Homo sapiens: one gene and its partners. The protein of the gene in region 2 interacts with the protein of the main gene of each other region in a biochemical or structural test. Each region holds a gene or a part of one and is shown on either strand. Other genes may lie near its edges.

What was found. Proteins that work in one complex are often made in the same cells at the same time.
Region 1: the proteins of SPTAN1 (region 2) and TES form a complex in vitro, tested with the Homo sapiens proteins (one study listed by BioGRID).
Region 3: the proteins of SPTAN1 (region 2) and EPB41 form a complex in vitro, tested with the Homo sapiens proteins (one study listed by BioGRID).

The regions. Positions count from the first base shown.
Region 1 is NC_000007.14:116,255,500-116,259,284, forward strand, and holds the end of TES (testin), read left to right. Parts: exon of another isoform or gene 1-1,794; coding exon 1,795-1,983; 3' UTR 1,984-3,284; downstream 3,285-3,785. UniProt on the Homo sapiens protein: Scaffold protein that may play a role in cell adhesion, cell spreading and in the reorganization of the actin cytoskeleton. Plays a role in the regulation of cell proliferation. May act as a tumor suppressor. Inhibits tumor cell growth.
Region 2 is NC_000009.12:128,548,109-128,555,586, reverse strand, and holds the start of SPTAN1 (spectrin alpha chain, non-erythrocytic 1), read right to left. Parts: upstream 3,001-7,478; 5' UTR 2,891-3,000; exon of another isoform or gene 2,276-2,890; intron 239-2,275; exon of another isoform or gene 221-238; coding exon of another isoform or gene 188-220; intron 1-187. UniProt on the Homo sapiens protein: Fodrin, which seems to be involved in secretion, interacts with calmodulin in a calcium-dependent manner and is thus candidate for the calcium-dependent movement of the cytoskeleton at the membrane.
Region 3 is NC_000001.11:28,909,966-28,917,569, reverse strand, and holds the start of EPB41 (protein 4.1), read right to left. Parts: upstream 3,002-7,604; 5' UTR 2,802-3,001; intron 1-2,801. UniProt on the Homo sapiens protein: Protein 4.1 is a major structural element of the erythrocyte membrane skeleton. It plays a key role in regulating membrane physical properties of mechanical stability and deformability by stabilizing spectrin-actin interaction. Recruits DLG1 to membranes.

The sequences.
Region 1 (3,785 bases), on a different chromosome or scaffold from region 2:
AAACCCCAGACTTTAATTCTCTATACCATTTATGTGTACTAATTATCTTTTTGCTTAATTTTCTTAATTTCATGTGTAATTGAACATTAGTTATCTCTTTTTTGTAAATTGCAACTGAAAATGTGTGTTTTGGGTAATTTTAAAAAATCACAGGTCTGAGAAAAAGAAGATAGATCATGGTCTGAAAGCAAGGGAATAAAACACACGGTGTATTTTACAAGAACACATTCAAAATACATAAACAAGAAATATTGAAAGACTGTTCTTATCACAAGGAAATCATAAATGTTTAAGGAGAGGGATATCCTAATTACCCTGATTTGATCACTACACTATGTATACATGTATTGAAACATCACATAGTACACCCATAAATATGTACAATTATGTGTTGATCATAAATTTTAAAATGGAAAGATTAATATGAAATGCAGAAAATAAGACATTCTAAATGCATAATAAAGCTATAAAAATATATACAAAAAGCAGTTGCTTGCATGGTGCAGCTGCACATTAGAAATGTGCTTGTAATTGAAACGTTCATTTTTATAGTATTCAGGAATAGTGTGTTGATCAAAGAATTTTCATTGTATCTCAGGGAAGACTGGGTTGACCTAACTTATAGATTACAGAGCTATAATCTCTGTAATCAGAAGCAATGTAACAAAAATATGCAGGTCTGAAATGGACATATATAACCAGGCCTCACTTCACTGCCTAAACCAATTACCCAGTGAGTAGCAGCCACATTTTGAAGTCTTTTCAAGTAAGGAGGCTCAAGCTGAATGACCTCCACTCACCTGTTCCCACCCCTTATCCCTCAGTAATTCCTGACAATCACATTACGAGACCAAGGGTGCTTAAGATTAGTCACTGTGATACCAGACAGTCTTGCTGGCTTCTTCACTTGTTATGAAATATTTAAAACAAAAACTTTAAGACAGCCATATTCATTCAGAACATGTATAAACTATAAGGCATGGACTATCCAGTGTTTCAGAGGTCCGAACTGGTTTTCTGTTTTCTGCTATAACATAGGTTATTTATTCATTTTCCTCATGTGCATGTTTGAATAAGAAGAAAATTTTGTGGTGTAAATGTATGTATGTTTGTGTATGTATATACATGTTTGTATGTCATGTATATATACATAACACATACTGAATGGTACAGGGATTGTAAGTATTAATGTTCTACAATATTAGATTACACATAAATTATGACTGATCTTATGACAGAATAGAAGCCAATTAACTACAAGTTATATTTTTAGTGCAAATTCATTTTTCTCAAACACTGTCAGTATTTTTAATTGAGTCCTTAATTACTTTGAACATGATTTTAATTTACTACTGTCTAGAAATTAGTGGTGTTAATAATCTCATGTGTCATAGGTAAGACAGGTAAAATTACCACTTCAAAGCTTTAATGAACAAGGAAAAATCATAAACTTCTGTGTAATTACAAATGTGCAATCTAATAAAATACATCAGAACTAAGCACACTGCTTTGGAACTTCCCATCAAGACTTTCTGCCTTGAATGCCATGAAGTTATCTTACATGCATCAAATCACCTGTTTGGCCTTCACTCGTTATTTCTCAGGCTGCTCAGAATATTGACCTCCATTAACAGTTGGCCAAAAAGGTTAGCTAGAAGGCCACCCTCCATTGTGTATTTCTGAGGTTGTCATTATGAGTTTTAATTTATCATCTAAAGAAATATGTCCTAAGATGAAAATGTTACCATTACAGCTTGATCTCTCACCCTCTTCTCTTGTATTATTTCTTAATAGGTGTGTCAAGGATGCCACAATGCCATCGACCCAGAAGTGCAGCGGGTGACCTATAACAATTTCAGCTGGCATGCATCCACAGAGTGCTTTCTGTGCTCTTGCTGCAGCAAATGCCTCATTGGGCAGAAGTTCATGCCAGTAGAAGGGATGGTTTTCTGTTCAGTGGAATGTAAGAAGAGGATGTCTTAGGAGGAGGGCACCCAGAAGTATCGAGCCATAGCTATCCAAAGTGGTCTGCATTTCTACTGTAAAATGCAATTTGAAAAAAATAAAACGCAAAAAAAGAAACTGTAAAGGAAACCAAGAGATTTTGTTTAATTTTTTTGGCCATTTTTTCTTCATCAATTTTTTTTCGGTCTCAACTTTTAAACTTGGTTTAAGCATTTGATTTGTAAAACAGTAAATAATTGTATCTTTCCATAGCTTTTCAAATGTGAAATCATTTTTGGAAGCTTGGATCTCATTAAACTTCATGTCTCTATTCCATTTGTGCCACACACTTAAAAGTTAGTGTACTGAATGGAAAGATGAGCATTCCTAGTTCTACACTTCTTTTTTCCCCCTCATGTGTAAAATGAAAAGAAAACTAAATTTGCCCTAATACCAAGGCGCTACGTTTATTGCCTCGTCTTATTCACTGACCTTTGTAATGATACACAGTGAATTCTTTTTGACAAAGAGAAATGCAGTGTAGTATGCAGAGCTGCTGTTTTAATGCCTATGCATTTACTCTTTCCTGATTTAGGCAGAGGTGGCATTTTCTTTATTGCATTTCTCTATTTTTTTAATGTACCCTACCTTCAGTATTCTCTTTGTAAGTTGGTGACTTGCATCTGTGGCCTTGAATATTTTATTATCACATGTGGCATAACAGTATCCACACTTTTTAGTTCTTTATTTTTTTTTTTTTATTTTGAGCAATTCTCCTGCCTCAGCCTCCCAAATAGCTGGGATTACAGGTGCATGCCACCACACCCAGCTAATTTTTGTATTTTTAGTAGAGACAGGTTTTCACCATGTTAGCCAGGCTGGTCTCAAACTCCTGACCTCAGATGATCCGCCTGCCTTGGCCTCCCAAAGTGCTGGGATTACAGGTGTGGGAGCCACCATGCCTGACCCACACACTTTTTACTTGTATAGATGATTTTTGGCTTGGACATAAAAGCCAAGCCACCCATTTGCTTTTAATCCAAAGAACATGTATAGTTTTTGTACCCAGAGACTATGATTTATATTGATTGCACTTGCCTGCCATGATTTAGATAAGATTTTTTTTGCATGGTTTTTATTCTTTCCTAATGGATCCTGTTTTATAATACTTCCAAGCCTGTCCATGGATATATCAAATGTCTTCACTTGTATATTTTCATGGCTAGGTATTTCTAATGTTTATTCTTCCCTGTGTACTTCTACACATAGCTATGCACTATGAAAATTAAATGGAATGAATGATATGTATATTACTCAAAATAAAGTTTCTTTCACTTTAATAATCATTGTATCTTTTTATTCATATCCTTTTTTGAGTGAAAAATGCTTCTGCAACTAAGCATGTGTTACAGCAGGGGGCGATGTCTCCAAGGATAAAAATTACCCAAACGAAAATAAAAGTCTGCCTCTGACAGGACAGCACAGAATCTAGATGTTTCATTATGGAGAAAAGATAAGGTTTATGAAACTTTCAAATCAGGACTTTTAAGTTTGGTCATGCAAGAGTTTTTTTCTTTTTCAAAGAAAGGGAAAGTAATTTTAATTAAAATTTGGGAGAGCTTATTTTCTATTCAGTTGGATCTAACAAGCCTTTTATACTTGGGTTTCAACTCTGGTTTCTTTATATGTAAAAAATATTAAAAGAAGAATTTTTTCATGGAAACTTATCGTGAGACAGAAAGCAAATGGGGAATAGTGGTAGACTCATGCTTCCTAATGTTAGCAGGCCATAATACTTTCTCCCTCAGTCTACAATTATTTCTGTCATAGTGGGAGTTGCA
Region 2 (7,478 bases):
TTCTGATAATTTAACACCAAAAAACCCCAAACAAATCCTAACCAATTTGTTTAACAGAAACGTCATGCAGGCAGGGTTTTTTTCCCCCTTTCTTTGGATCATTCAACCTCTTTGACACGAATATGCCTTCACTGCAAGCCAGGCAAAACCAAAAAGGCAACCCGTTTTCTGCATGCTCGTCAAATACCTGGACTCTGCGTTTACGAAACGATGACAACATGATGGAGGAATGTGGAGTCTAAAGAGGGAGGGGGAAGAGCAAGATAACAAGCTTCTAAGGGCAAACGGAACAAAATCATGAAGAAAACAGATTATTTAAAAAATATGAATACAGATTAAAAATCCAATTTCAGATATTTTTTCAGTGTCTTCTCTCTGACATTCTGTATAGCGTCTAAATCCCACAAGGGATTTAAAATGTGGAAGGAGAACCAAGGTTCCCAGGTCTTGGCAGTTACTTTCTAGATATGCTGCCCTGGTCAAGTCTCATTCTCCTTGGGGCCTCAATTTCCCCACTTGTTAAAGTAATAATACCGAATATACTTTTTCAAACTAAACATGCCTTCCTCCTGAGGATCCCAGGACAAGATGATTCCTAAATCCCCTTCCATTCAGCAATAAAAGAGCATGACTTCATGAAATTGCCACAAAGTAGAACTCAAGCCACAAAGATCTGACTTGGGCCTAGTTTGCCAGTACACTTACTTTACAAAATACTATTTCCTGTTCAAAATTGGTACAAGAGGAATATGCAAAAAAGGTGGAAGAGAGGTGATGGTTTGCAGCACAGCTGCTCCAGTCAAGTGGCCCCCAGTGATGAGCTATGCAGTCCTCCTCCTCCTCCGCATTCCTGGAGTCAGCATTTGCCACTAGGGCGTTGCATTCTTCTACAGTACAGCCGCAGCTGATATGCTGCAACAGATGAGTGCGTAACTAGTGGGATCCCTGCATAGCCCACGGAGGACTGATTACAAAGGCAGGCCAGCCTTGAACACACTTGTCCATTCTTAGTGTAGATTCAGCAGTGACAGGACATGGGGGACTATTCCTGAGATCCACTTTTCAGGATCTGCAGTTGACCCCCAACTTTGGATGAAGGCAGGTAAGAAAAAGCAGAAAAAATTCTAACCCAGGGAACCAAAAGACATACTTAAAACAGCTCTCCCCATGTGCACCTCTTCATCATATTGCTTGACAGGCTTACACTGCAGCCTGTGACATACCAGATTTCTCCAATTATTAGATGACTACAAAACACACTGCCAAGACCAAAGCATATCAGAGAATCAGTTACTAGGCTGATGGTTTGCCATAAGAACTGCTTCACACTTGTCCAGGATGAAGCAAAAATCCTCCTTTCCAGTCTCTCCATCAAGGTCCCTGGATAACAGTTAACACACTTTGAGGGTCCCTTTGAGTAATTATTGGCCCAGTTACTAAAAAAGGCTTATTGTTAATTTCCTGCACAGAGGCCTTTACTGCAGCACTTTTTTTTTCCTCCGCAGCACATTCAATTTGACCTTTCAAAATCTAAGACATTAGTTAGCTGCAATGAAAGGGAAAATAAACGACTAGTTAAGGAGTCGGAACCTTGACTCAATGGCTTCATATAGCTGAGTGTTCCTCCTGCTATTTCCAAGATTTTCTGTTTCCTGGCTCCAAGACACCCCCACCCTTCCATCTTTGATACATTCTGTTTTACTTAAGGCCAATTGCTATGACGACGCAATTTCTCAACACATTATGAAAATACTTCATATGGCCTCTCTCCTGTTCTTCCCGAACAGCCATGATGGTAAGTTTTTCTAAAATAACATGATGAAGACAGAACAAAGGGCTTAAATATTTTAGGATCTATTATATAAAAGAGATCTGATTAGATGTTGGAACAGTTCAAGCATCATCTCAACCCAGCTTTCTGAGCTATTTAGGCTTTTCATTTAAAACATATTCAACTTTTAACAAGGCGCTTATTTAAAATATATTTTACTCTAGTACATCAGAGACTTTTGAAAGCGATGTTCTAGGGGAAGCGTCTAATCAAATTCTCAGGGACAGCTTTCAAACAAAAGACTGTTCTATCATTCAACAGTGGTATGGTAGAATTTTTGACACTGTATCTCGACTCGAAAGACCCAGTCCCAGGAAACACACACACAAACAAGAACGCTAAGCTATTAAGTTATTTGATTTGAGCCACATACCATGCAAGCACTGCATTTACCTATTATTTACAAGCAAATCACAACTAGGAAGAAAGAAAAATGTTTATTACAAGGAAAGAAAAGGAGACGGCCAGTCTCAGACCCTTCTGCGTTCAGAGAGACGGCAGAGATTCGCCATGCAGGATGAAATTAAGGTCAGAGAGCCGTTTACGCTATGCTCGGGCTCCCCGGGCTCTTCCTCCCTCTACGGCTGGCCGGCATTGCTGGTGCGATTCGGAAGAACGAGCTGCAGAAGTCGCTCCCGGCCGAGGGAAGGGACCGGGGGCGGTGCGGGGAGCGTTCTGCAGGGAGGCGGCTGGCGAAGATCCCGACGAGGGAGCCCCCACCCACCTGCCGCAGCCGGATGGGGCAGGGCAGGGCCGCGCCGCAGCCAGGCTTGGGGGTGGTTGGGAGGGACCCGGCGGCCTCGCGCCCCCTCCCCCCGTCAGTGACATTCCAGCGGCGGCGCCGAGCCTCGGCCCGGCTGCTCCTCCGCAGCCCACGCGCCACAAAAGCAGCGGCAGCGGCTTCCCCCACTCAGCCGAATGGAGGCAGCCCCGCGGCCCGCCCGGCTCACCTGTCCGCGCGCCGGCCCCGCCCCGCCTGAAGAGCTGCCCAGCTCCCACCCGGGGGTCGGCTGCCCGGGGCCCCGCTCCCTCCCGGAGCTCCCCGGCTGCCCCTCTCACCGGCTCTCGGGGGGTGAGGGGCGTGGGTGCGTCGGGCCGAGGGGTGCTGAAGGACCGAGGAGCCTCCGCGGCCTCCGCTCCACACCGTTCACTCCGCAGCGGGTAGTGGCGGCGACGCGCGCGCCCCGCCTCTTTTATAAGCGGCTACGCGCGCTCCCGCGGCGGGCGGGCGCGAGCGCCGGGGGAAGCGCCCCGGCGCTGCGCGAGGGGTGGGGGAGCGCGCCGGCGGAGCAAAGGGGGCGGTGCTCCCGCCGGCTCGCCGCCCGACCGCCCGGCGGAAAGGGCCGAGCGATCCCGGAAGGAGCCGAAGCGACAATGCGGGGGAAGAGGTGAGCGAGGGGCGGGCCGCGGGAGGATGGGGAAATGGGGCGCGCGCAAGGGGTGAGGGGTGATGGTGCAGTGAGGTCACTGCCTACGCCCTGGCGGTAGAGACGCTCCCGCCTCACCTCCCTCCCCGCAGCTTGCGCCCCGCCACCGCCCGCCCTGCGGACAGTCGTCTGCATCGCACCACTCCGCCCTGGGAGCTCTTCCAGGACTGCGGAGAAGGGCGGGGCGGGGGTATCGCTGCAGTCTGGCTGGGGATGCTGCGCGCCCCGGCCGGAAAAACGCCCAGTCCCAAAGGGTGAGATCACCCGAGTGCGTCTCTTCCTGCTCACTTTCCCGAGGAGGAGGCTGGCGCTGGGGTCCCAAGTCAGCCTAATTCGGTGGGGGCTGGGGTCAAGAAGACGCGGATGATTTGGGGCCCCGGGTTTGAGGAGGTGGTGAGAGGAAAAGGCCAAATCCGAATCAGAAAAAAAATTAAGTCGACTAATTTGGGGCATAAAGCTGTCATTCTGGGATTTGGAGAGTTAATTTCTTATGTTCTTGGAGATTATGGGGGAGGAAACGGCAGCGGCAAAATAATAATTTCTTACATTCCTGCAACAAAAGCTTTCTCACAGGTCGCCAGTGGAATAGGCTACATTCATCCTATTTCATAAACAAGACATTAAGGTTCTTTCTGGCACAATTAATCGAACTTGCCTTGTGTACTAGGCACTATGCTAAGTATTTCGTGTTACCTTTTCATTTCTTAATCTTTGCAATAATTTTATGAGATGTTTTCCCATTTTACAAATGGGCACTCTTACATAATGCTCATGTAGGCTAAGTCTCTTGGCCCAGGTCAGGCAGCTACCAATTGGAAGAGCTAGGATTTACATCTCAGCAGTCAGAACCTTCCCTTTGCAACCGTATGTGTATTGCCTTCAAATAGGAAAGGGAGGCATTTTGATGCGGGTGGCTGCTGGGGTGCAGAAAGAGAAAAATAAGATTCTCAGAATTTCTGATACTTAAAGTCCTAGCAGTTTAAGGTCCTGGCTCTAAACTCTGTAGCCAGAAGCCCTGGATTAGGAAGCCCTTTCCCTATCCCCATTCCGGTGACAGCTGGGCCGCAGCCACTGGGAGTAACACCCAGATCATTCCTGTGCAGTCAGGCAGACGGGGAGCTCTGCAGCTTAGGAAGGCTTCAGCCTCCTGGTTACCAAGCAGCTCTCCTCTTTAAATAAATATAAAGTCATTGGACACTGCACCAGAATCTGGGCCCAGACCTGGCCCTGAGCTTCCTGGCCCTCTGCAGTTTGGCTTCTTTCCCCGTGCCTGGGACCTGCAATACGGTTTCTAAGCTGTCCTGGCTGTAGCCATGATACTGAGGAAAAATTTCCCTACCCACTCACTCCATTGGAGTGGAGAGAAAAGCAGTGACCACACCCCAGAAGCTGCTTTAGAGAATCTGTGTAGGAGAAACGTAGGAGCTGAGAGGCATTTCCTGCAATCTTCTATGTAGAGAAAACAGCGCTGAGCAACTCCTCCCTGGAGTGTGCATTTCTGAGAACAGCTGATGGTATCCGTGGCCTCTTCTCCAGCAGGTTGCAGTAAAATGTTTGATCAGATATTCAGCTCTGGGTACAAAATGGCTAACACAATTGTAGCTCCCTAAAATTTCCAAGACCTTCTGCTCCAGCAAAGAAAGCACCTTGGGACTGAGGGGCAGGAGCTGTTCAAAAGGGAGGGTTTTTCTATTAAATCACCCTGGCCCCATAGTGAACTGGGGGTTCTGCTGCTTTTGCTGGATGCAAAATGGAGACCTAAGAGAGAGCTCTGTATTGATAGAGAAACTAAAATCTTATTTGATTCTTTGTGTGATCTGAGACATGACCAAGAAACAGTATCCCCAGCGCTCTCCACCTCCCACCCACTCACCCTGCCTTCTCTGCACTTGGCACTTGAAACCAGCCATTCTTCACTGTTCTGTTGTCTGCCTACCTCACCTCCCACCAGTTTCACCATATGCCTAACACCCTAGTAGGTGTGGAAAGCTGGGGGAAAAAACAACAACAGAAAAAGCACAGGACAGTGTAACGACTTTGTAACCAATCAACTCCATGTTCTCAGTCACACCTCTCCTGGCCTCCTAAAAAGCAGAGGGTTGGACTGAATTCTCAACTCCTTTTTCTAGTTTCAGCAATCCTCAGAAGGTTTGATAGGCACCCTAAGCTTAAGCGTCTAGATAGTCCCAATACTTTTTCAGGTTGTTGAAAAGGTCAACTGTTGGAAAACACACTAATTGTGGTGATGTGTCCATATGTTCCAGCCAGGGAAAGTCACTTGCCCACTCTCCCTGGGAGAGACCCCTTCCCCTCCCCTCCCCTCCACACCCTGTCTCACCCCCTGCAAAGATAACAGGCAAGCACTTCCACTATTTTTCTTCCCTAGAAGGGAGCTGATTGGGAAGAGTCATGCTGGCAAGTGGACTGCACTTCCCATATGACATTCTGCAGTGTCAGAGCTGGCAAGAAATAACACAGCTCTTCAAATCACAGTGCCTGGATGAACCTTGAAGGCTTTATGCTAAGTGAAATACGCCAGACACATAAGGATGAATACTGTATGACCATTCCACTTATATGAGATCCCTAAAATTGTCAGATTCATAGAGACAGAAAAAACTGTTGTTACCAGGGTCTGAGGGGAGGGAGGAATGGGTTATTATTGTTTAGTGGGAAAGTTTCCGTCTGGGATGGTGAAAGAGAGTTCTGGAGAGGATGGTGGTGATGGTTGCACAACACTGTGACTGTACATAATGCCACAGAACTGTACACTTACAAATGGTTAGGCAGGGCTTGGTGGCTCACGCCTGTAATCCCAGCACTTTGGGAGGCTGAGGCGGGCGGATCACTTGCGGTCAGGAGCTTGAGACCATCCTGGCCAACATGGTGAAACCCTGCCTCTACTAAAAATACAAAAATTAATCGGGTGTGGTGGTGCACACCTGTAATCCCAGCTACTCGGGAGGCTGAGGCAGGAGAGTCGCTTGAACCCGGGAGGCGGAGGTTGCAGTGAGCCAAGATCGCGCCATTGCACTCCAGACTGGGCGACAGATTGAGACTCCGTCTCAAAAAAAAAAAAAAGGTTAAACTTTTTATGTTCTATATATTTTACTACAATCAAAAGACAAAGCAAAACACAAGCCCCTGCTTCTAAAATCAAGCACCACATTAGAGAAGCAGCCTGATAGGCTCTGGGAGTGTGGCCTTACCAGGGTTTTAAGACTCCAGGTGACAGCAGAGATGTAAACTCCTCCCTCCCCTCCCCTAATCCGACCTTGTAATCTGGCTCCGGTCATTTCACATCTGTTCCCTTGCAGGGCTGCCTGCTAGGCCTGGTCAGTCCGTGTCCCTCCTGCTTACCTTGAACCCACTACTACAGTTAGTTTCACAAATCACGTCAAACCTTCTCAACAAGTTTCAGTTGTTTCCCATTGCCTACGGAATAGGCCGAAATTTGCAGCCTCCACAATCTTGTTCCAATTTACCTTTTCACAGCATCATTCCCTACAGTTCTGCTCTACTGGTCTGAGGTTAGCCTCTTTCCAAAACATGTTATTTCTCCAACTCCATGCTTTTGTGAACAATTTTTTCCTCCAATTAGAACATCCTTTCCCAACACTCATGCCTCCTTTCTGCCTGAAAATCTTACCCATTTTGAGTATATGTAAGTAGAACCTTTCTGGAAGAGCAGTTGGCAATGTGGATCAAAATATAAAATTTGCATGCCATTTGACCCAGCAATGTTAGTTACATCTAGAAATCTGCCTTAAGCAGGACAAGATGCATTTTCATTCAGGACGGGCGTGGTGGCTCACACCTGCAATCCCAGCACTTTAGGAGGCTGAGGCAGGCAGATCACTTGAGCCCAGGAGTTTAAGACCAGCCCGGGCACCATGGCAAAACCCCATCTCTACAAAAAAATGCAAAAATTAGCCAGATGTGGTGGCTTGCGCCTGTAGTCCCAGCTACTCAGGAGGCTGTGGGAGGATCACCTAAGCGCGGGAGGTCAAGGCTGCAGTGAGCCATGACTGTGCTACTGCATTCCAGCTCAGGCAATAGAGTGAGACCTTGTCTCAAAAAAAAAAAAAAAAAAAAAAAGAATGTTAATAATTTAAAAAAATATATTAGGCATAACCTAGTCACCAAGTGAAAAATGATTAATTACGATTCATAAATTCAAGACTATATTCATGATATAATACTTATTGACTTGAGAAAAT
Region 3 (7,604 bases), on a different chromosome or scaffold from region 2:
CGGTGGCTCATGCCTGTAATCCCAGCACTTTGGAAGGCCGAGGCGGGTGGATCACGAGGTCAAGAAATCGAGACCATACTGACCAACATGGTGAAACCCCAACTCTACTAAAAATACAAAAGTTAGGTGGGCATGATGGCAAGCGCCTGTAATCCCAGCTACTTGGGAGCCTGAGCCAGGAGAATTGCTTAAATCCAGGAGGTGGAGGTTGCAGTGAGCTGAGATCATGCCACTGCACTCCAGCCTGTGTGACAGAGTAAGACTCCATCTCAAAATAAATAAATAAATACACACACACACATACACACACACACACACACAGAGAGAGAGATGGCAAAGCAAGGGTTATTACAGAGTAGTTCTATTTGGTTGCACAATACAAAAAATAAGGAGAATAAAGGTGGAAAGGTAGATTGTAGCCATATTGCATAAGAACTTACAAGACATTTGGTATAAAACACTTAATAAATGTTGGGAGAGGCCGGGTGAGGTGGCTCACATCTGTAATCCCAGCACTTTGGGAGGCCCAGGGAGGAGGATCTCTTGAGTCCAGGAATTCAAGACCACCCTAGGCAACATAGTGAGACTGTCTCTACAAAAAATAAAAAGACATTAGCCAAGCATGGGGGCACACGCCTATAGTCCCAGCTACTAGGGAGGCTGAGGCAGGAGGATCACTTGAGCCCAGGAGTTTAAGGCTGCAGTGAGCCGTGATCATGCCACTGCACTCCAGCCTGGGTGACAGAATGAGACCCTGTTTAAAAAAAAAAAAAATTGTTGGGAGAATTTTGGTAAAACCTACAGATTAAAAACATTTATTTCTAAGCCTGAATTCAAACATACAAGGAAAAATGTATAGTTTTGTTGGTAGAAGACAGAGGAATCAGAAGGTTGGCATTCTGAACTTATGTTCAACAATGAGTTCACCTTTTTTTGAGACAGTTTTGCTCTGTTGCCCAGGTTGAAGTGCAGTGGTGCAATCTCGGCTCACTGCAACCTCCGCCTCCTAGGTTCAAGCGATTCTCCTGCCTCCACCTACTGAGTAGGTGGGATTACAGGCACATGCCACCACACCCAGCTACTTTTTTGCATTTTTAGTACAGATGGGGTTTCACCATGCTGGCCAGGCTAGTCTCGAACTCCTGACCTCAAGTGATCCACCCGCCTTGGCCTCCCAAAGTGCTGGGATTACAGGCGTGAGCCACCGTGCCCGACATAGTTCACTTTTAATAGTGCCAAAGATATACTGTACTTGTTTCCCCAGGTGTATGAATAATATCTATATTTACCTTAATTATAAGCTTCTTATAGAAAGCACACTGAATTAACTACTTTGATTCTAAGGCAATCTGGTGTTCAGTTATTACATCTATTTTTGAATCTGCCATTTATTGAGTGCTTACTGTACGCCAGATAGCATGTACGCTACATGGATTATATTAATAACACCCCAAACCAAAAATTTTACAACTGGCGAAGAACTGATTACACTTTCAATTTACAGAAAAGGAAAATGAAGAGTACATCAAGTTTCCATAAAAAGTAGGGGTTAGTGCTACATTAACAAAACTGGGACGGGAAGAAACATATACGGGCTATATATCCTGCTTTTGATTAAAGGGATCAAACCAACTAAAATTTTTGCCAGGACTGAGAATACAGAAAACAACAATGAGCAACAGCATTGACTACAGTACATCCTCAAGAGAGTATAAATCCACTATAATAATATCCAAGACACAAGACACAACCATTTCTTGCAATTTTCCCTAAAAACAGAAGGGAAGAAAATAGCAGCTGTGAAATCACCCAGACTACAAAAAAAAAAAAAAAAAAAAGCATCTGAAAAAAAAAAAGGAAAAAGAAAAAACTATCTCCTAATGAACAACTACATGCCAAAAAACAAGTCTCCACAGACTAGTCATTTATGGCAGGGTACAGGGTACAGTTAAAGAAACAACAGGATGACAGTCGCTATCATGTGGCCAGAAACCAGTCCATCAGCAATCTGTTTCACGTGAGATCACTTTTTCTCAAGAGAATGCCTGTTCTTGGGGAGCATGACCTGTTTTGGCAAAACCTCCCCAGGAATAATGGCCTGCTGGTCAATCTCGGAGGGCGAGCCCAGACCCGGCCTCTCCACAGGTACAGCAGCCCAGCGAGCACGGAGGAAGATTTCCAAGCCGACAGATGCGCGAACTGAAAAAGGAGGTCACGACGCTGAGAGAATAGATTTAACCCTCTGCTCGCTGGGAACCCAGAAGACTAAGGGGGAACATGTTTTTCAATGATGCAGGCGTCGGTGGCGGGAAGGCCTGCGAAGTCTTGCCAGGGCTCCCTGCAGTCCTCAGATTCCGCCTGACTTCTGCAGACAGCCCAGCTCCCTCGCCAGGAAGAAATCGCTCCGCGGCTGCACGCAACACCTTCACCGTCTGAAACCTGCGATTCTCCGCATTTGGTTTCCTCCCGAGGCTCCTGCACACCGCACCGTGATTGACGCACCCGAGGGGACCGTCAAAAATACATCTCAAGCCTAACTTTCCAACACTCCCGCGACGCAACCCCTTCCCCTTTCCTCAGCGGCTCTGGCCCGCCCCTCGCTCCTCGGGCCGCGTCCCGGCTGGCGACTCGGCGTGCACACGAGGCTCCTCCGCGGGAGAGCCCGCGCCCCGGCCCGGGGCCTGTCGGGGGTTGCAGACAAAGAGGCTGCAGCGCCGCCGCGGCCGCCAGGACCGTCCCCACGGGGACAGCTCCACGCCCACCGCCCCGGCTCCCGCGCCGCCGCCGCCGCCTCGCCTCACCGGTGGCTCCGGGGCCGGGCTCCTGCGCCCGCCACTGCTGCAGCCCGACGAACAATGGCAGGAGGAGGCGCCGGCGTCCGAGGCTCGGGCCCTCTGCGGCTCGCGGGCCCGCCGGCTGCTGCTGGCTGACTGACTAAACGCACCAGCGGAGGGAGGGAGCGAGCGAGCGACCCTGGCGCGCGCCCTCCCGCCTTCCCTCTGCGAGGCGAGGCCAGCCCGGCCCGCAGCCCGCCCGCCGGCCCGCGCCCCTCCCCCTCAGTTCGCCACAACATTGTAGTAAATTTCTATTGGGCCGCGCCGGAGGGAAGGAGGGGGCCGGGCCCGCGGCCCGTCCGCCCATTGGCTGAGGCCAACTTCTAGCTCCCCTTGTTTCCCCCCTCCCCTAGGCCGGTAAGGAGAGGAGAGGGGAACGAAAAAGAGAGAGGAAAAGGCAAGGGGCTGGCCGCGTGTGCGCACGCGCAAGTCGAACCCGGTCTGGAGCCGGGGTGTTCCGGGATCCCGCAGCACCCACGTGGGGCATGAGGCAGCTAGAGCCCTGGACGGTGAGGCCCTTTCCTCCTTCCAAGTAAGAGGCCGAGATTTGGAAGCCTCAGGGAAGTAACTCGCGTAGAGGTTGTAGCCAGGCTACCCCAACTGACTCCCCCTAAACGCTTAGTGACCTCGGGTAAGTCACTCAGCTTCTCTGTACCTCAGTTTCCCCATCCACTAGTTTGACTGTCTCTAGGCGCCCTTCCAACCCTGACATTCGATGAGACTTTACCTCTCGTGCCAGCTGTGTAAGGCCTGAAATGGAAGCTAAGTGTTGAGACCACGCCAAGATTGAACCTGTCTTCTGCATTTAAGGATCTCCTAATTCCCCCCTGGCAATCTCAACATTATAAAGACCTAGCTTCCGAGGTCTGGTCTCCAGATGAACTGAGGGTTGCTCTGACAATTGCTTAGTGTGTCTTTATTTCCTTCCAGAAGTGTCAGAGACCCCTTGACCCTTCCTACTCCCTGCTAGGCTGGTCTGTGAACAGGCTTCGGACCCACAGTGCAGAAAGAAGGCTTTTGTTTTAAGCATGATACCTAGAAGGTAAGATAGGATCTGGTGTTCTATTTTAGAGATGAGGAAACTGAAGCAGAGAGACTTAAAACTGACAGGATAAGAAGCCAGGCCATCTGACAGCAGAGTCTGTAGATGCCAGCTAGACATTCCTGATATCTAATCACAGCCCCTTCACGATCCCAGCACAGCCTCTGGAAACAGATTGCCTGGGTTCAATTCTTAGTCTCCAGCCTTTTCTAATGGTTTGATTTTCATTTTTCTTTTATTTATTTATTTATTTATTTGAGACGGAGTCTCGCTCTGTCACCAGGCTGGAGTGCGGTGCCGGAATCTCGGCTCACTGCAACCTCTGCCTCCCGGGTTCAAGCGATTCTCCTGCCTCAGCCTCCCGAGTAGCTGGGACTACAGGCGTGTACCACCACGCCCAGCTAATTTTTGTATTTTTAGTAGAGACGGGGTTTCACCGTGTTAGTCTCGATCTCCTGACCTCGTGATCCGCCCTTCTCGGCCTCCCAAAGTGCTGGGATTACAGGCTTGAGCCACCGCGCCCGGCTGTGCCTCATTTTTCAACACCATAAAAGGGGATAATATGTCCAAGTAGCTGGGACTCCCACCTATAGTGGGAGGCTGAGGTGGGAGGATTGCTCAAGCACAGGAGTTCAAGGCCACAGTGAGCTAGGATCATGCCATTCCACTCCAGCTTGGGCAACAGAGCAAGACTCCATCCCTAAAAACAAAAACGAGGGTTGGGGGAGGGAGAAGGATAATAATAGTTCCCACCTCACAGAGTTACTGTAAGAATTAGGCCAGGCATGGTGGCTCATGCCTGTAATCCCAGAACTTTGGGAGGCTGAGGCAGGCGGATCACCTGAGGTCAGGAGTTCGAGACCAGCCTGGCCAAATGGTGAAACCCCATCTCTACTAAAAATACAAAACTTAGCTGGGCCTGGTGGCAGGCACCTGTAATCTCAGTTATTCTCGGAGGTTGAGGCAGGAGAATCACTTGAACCCAGGAGGTGGAGGTTGCAGAGAGCCGAGATCATGCCATTGAACTCCAGGTTGGGTGACAAGAGCAAGACTCCATCTCAAAAAAAAGAAAAAGGAAAACAGAATTAAATGAGTTAAAATATGTAAAGGACTTAGAGCAGTGCCTAGCTCATAGTAAGATCTATGTGTGTTAATTATTATTACTATTCAGAGACTAAAATGTGGACTGAGAGGTGTGGAACTGGCAAATATAATAATATATTTGTTAAGCATGCAATTGTTGTTAGCACTGAGCTGAGCACGTTATGTAAATTGTCCATTTGAAACATCATAAAACCCCTTGAAAACCACCTGACTATACCATCTAAAACACCCTCCACTCAAACACCCTTATCCTGCTTTAATTTGCTTCATAGCACTTACCCTACTTGACTTTCTACTATATATTTATTATTTATTGTGCCTCTCAAATAAATTGCTGTAATCTAGACCCACTAGACTGCAAGCTCAGGAAGGCAGGGACTGTATCTGTATTCATCTCCCAGAACAGTATACGCTCAATAAATATTTGTTGAATGAGTTAATGAACATCCTCATTTTACATATAAGGAAACTGAGTCTTAGTGAGGTCAGGTGACTTGGCCAGGGTCATTCTGTGTATGAGGGGTGAAGCACCTGTTTTTTTTTGAGAAGGGGTTTCGCTCTTTTTGCCCAGGCTGGAGTGCAATGGCACGATCTCGCCTCACCTCACTGCAACCTCTGCCTCCCAGGTTCAAGCGATTCTCCTGCCTCAGCCTCGTGAGTAGCTGGGATTACAGGCATGTGCACCACGCCTGGCTAATTTTGTATTGTTAATAGAGATGGGGTTTCTCCATGTTGGTCAGGCTGGTCTCGAACCCCCAGCCTCAGGTGATCCACCCACCTCAGCATCCCAAAGTGCTGGGATTACAGGCATGAGCCACCATGCCTGGCCACACCTGTTCTTAAATACTCTGGTCTCCTGCCTCAAGTCCTCAGGTTCAGCTGTGCTTTTTATTCAGAGTTCTAGTCCTACCACCTCTGTGCCTCAGGCTTCCTTCACCAATCAGACAGGAAAATCTGGTACCTTGAAGGATGAGTATAGAAGACCAATTACCAGTGGTTTACCATCTCCACCACCACCAAGTTATCCAGCAAATTCAGATTCATGAAAGCCCAGTATTCTCTATGCCATGAAGTGCTAGCCAATGGCACATCTAATTGGATGCAAAGAATATGTAGCATTTAATAATCCTTACTCTGCAAATAAGTAGAGGTCTCAGGCTAACAGCAAAAGGCTAGACACAAGGCAGGTATGAACTACTCTGAAATTCAGAGTGCCATGCAATAACACACCATAATCCATTGACTCAGGCTTTAGAATCTGAAAGACCTGAATTCCAGTGCTGGCTTTTAATTCTTAGCCTGGAGATGAAAGGGCTTTGTAAACTGTAAAGTACTATCCACACATGAGGAATTTTTGTTATTTTAGACACACATCTTCAGTTGTTAGGCTAAGTGCCCAATCTCTGAGTGTTGCCAGGCCTATCACATAGGAAGATGTGGGGGTATAAGTAATGCCTAATATGAAGGTGGAAAAACTACCTTTACTCCTGGGCCCATCTGCCCTCTCAGACTTCTGCAAACCAGGTATCCAGTCCCAGCTCACCCTGCAGAGACTGCCATCAGGTACCAAGGGTAAAGGTCCCAAGCACCGTCTCTGAGGCTAATTTCCAAGGCAGAAACAGCTCTGCTCCATGCTCACATCTGGGTGGCAGCTGTGCTATGCCCCAAGCCCCAGGATGGGGTCCCTAAGGACCATCTCTATCTCGCCTGCCAGCTGAGCCCACCATTACCTCCCCACCCCCTACCCCTTGTGTTCCTTCCTAGGGAATACAGGCCCCGCTAGCTGCCTGTTAGCCCCTGGAGCAGTCAAGGGCAGTAAGCAAAAGAGAAAAAGAAAAAAAAAGACAGTGTGAAAGGGTCTTAATCCTTCCCCACAGCAAACTGAGCCCAAGCAAAAGCAAACACCAGCTGCACATAAGAGGGTGAAATTAGATGGTGAAATTAGGTGGTGACCAGTGGGGAAGGCCAGGGAGTGTAGATGAGGCCTCAGATGACCTGGTAGAGATGAGACTGGAAGAAAGCGGGGAGGGGCGGGGAAACCATACCCAAATCTGGGACGTGGGCGGATTAGGGACACAGCTGGCCTGAAGCCCTGTGTCTGTTGTGGAGGGTGGCAAGAGATTGAAGAGGGCTTTGAAAAGCTGGGCCCACCAACAAAGTGTTCTGAACAGTACTGTTGAATGAAAACTGATGCTGGTACCAAAAGTATATGAAGAGTAGTGCTTGCCATCCTGCCTATGGCAGGATAAAAAATCACAGTTATTTTAGACTTGTAAACACAAATGATAAATCAAACAGGCTATAATGGGATGGGAATTACCATTCATACAGTGGGATGGGGATTAATTTTACTAGTAGTACTTGAATTGTTCATAGAAAATTTAGAAACACAAGAAAAAATGTAAGTCACTATAAAGCCACCAGTCAAAAATAACTACCATCAATATTTTGGGACCTTCCCTTCTAGTACCTTTTCTTATACGTACACTTTTTTTTTTTTTTGAGACAGTGGTCTCACTCTGTTACCCAGGCTGGTGTACAGTAGCATGACCACAGCTCACTGCAGCCTCGACCTCCTGGGCTCAAGTGATGTGATCCTCCCACCTCAGCCTCCCAGGTAGCTG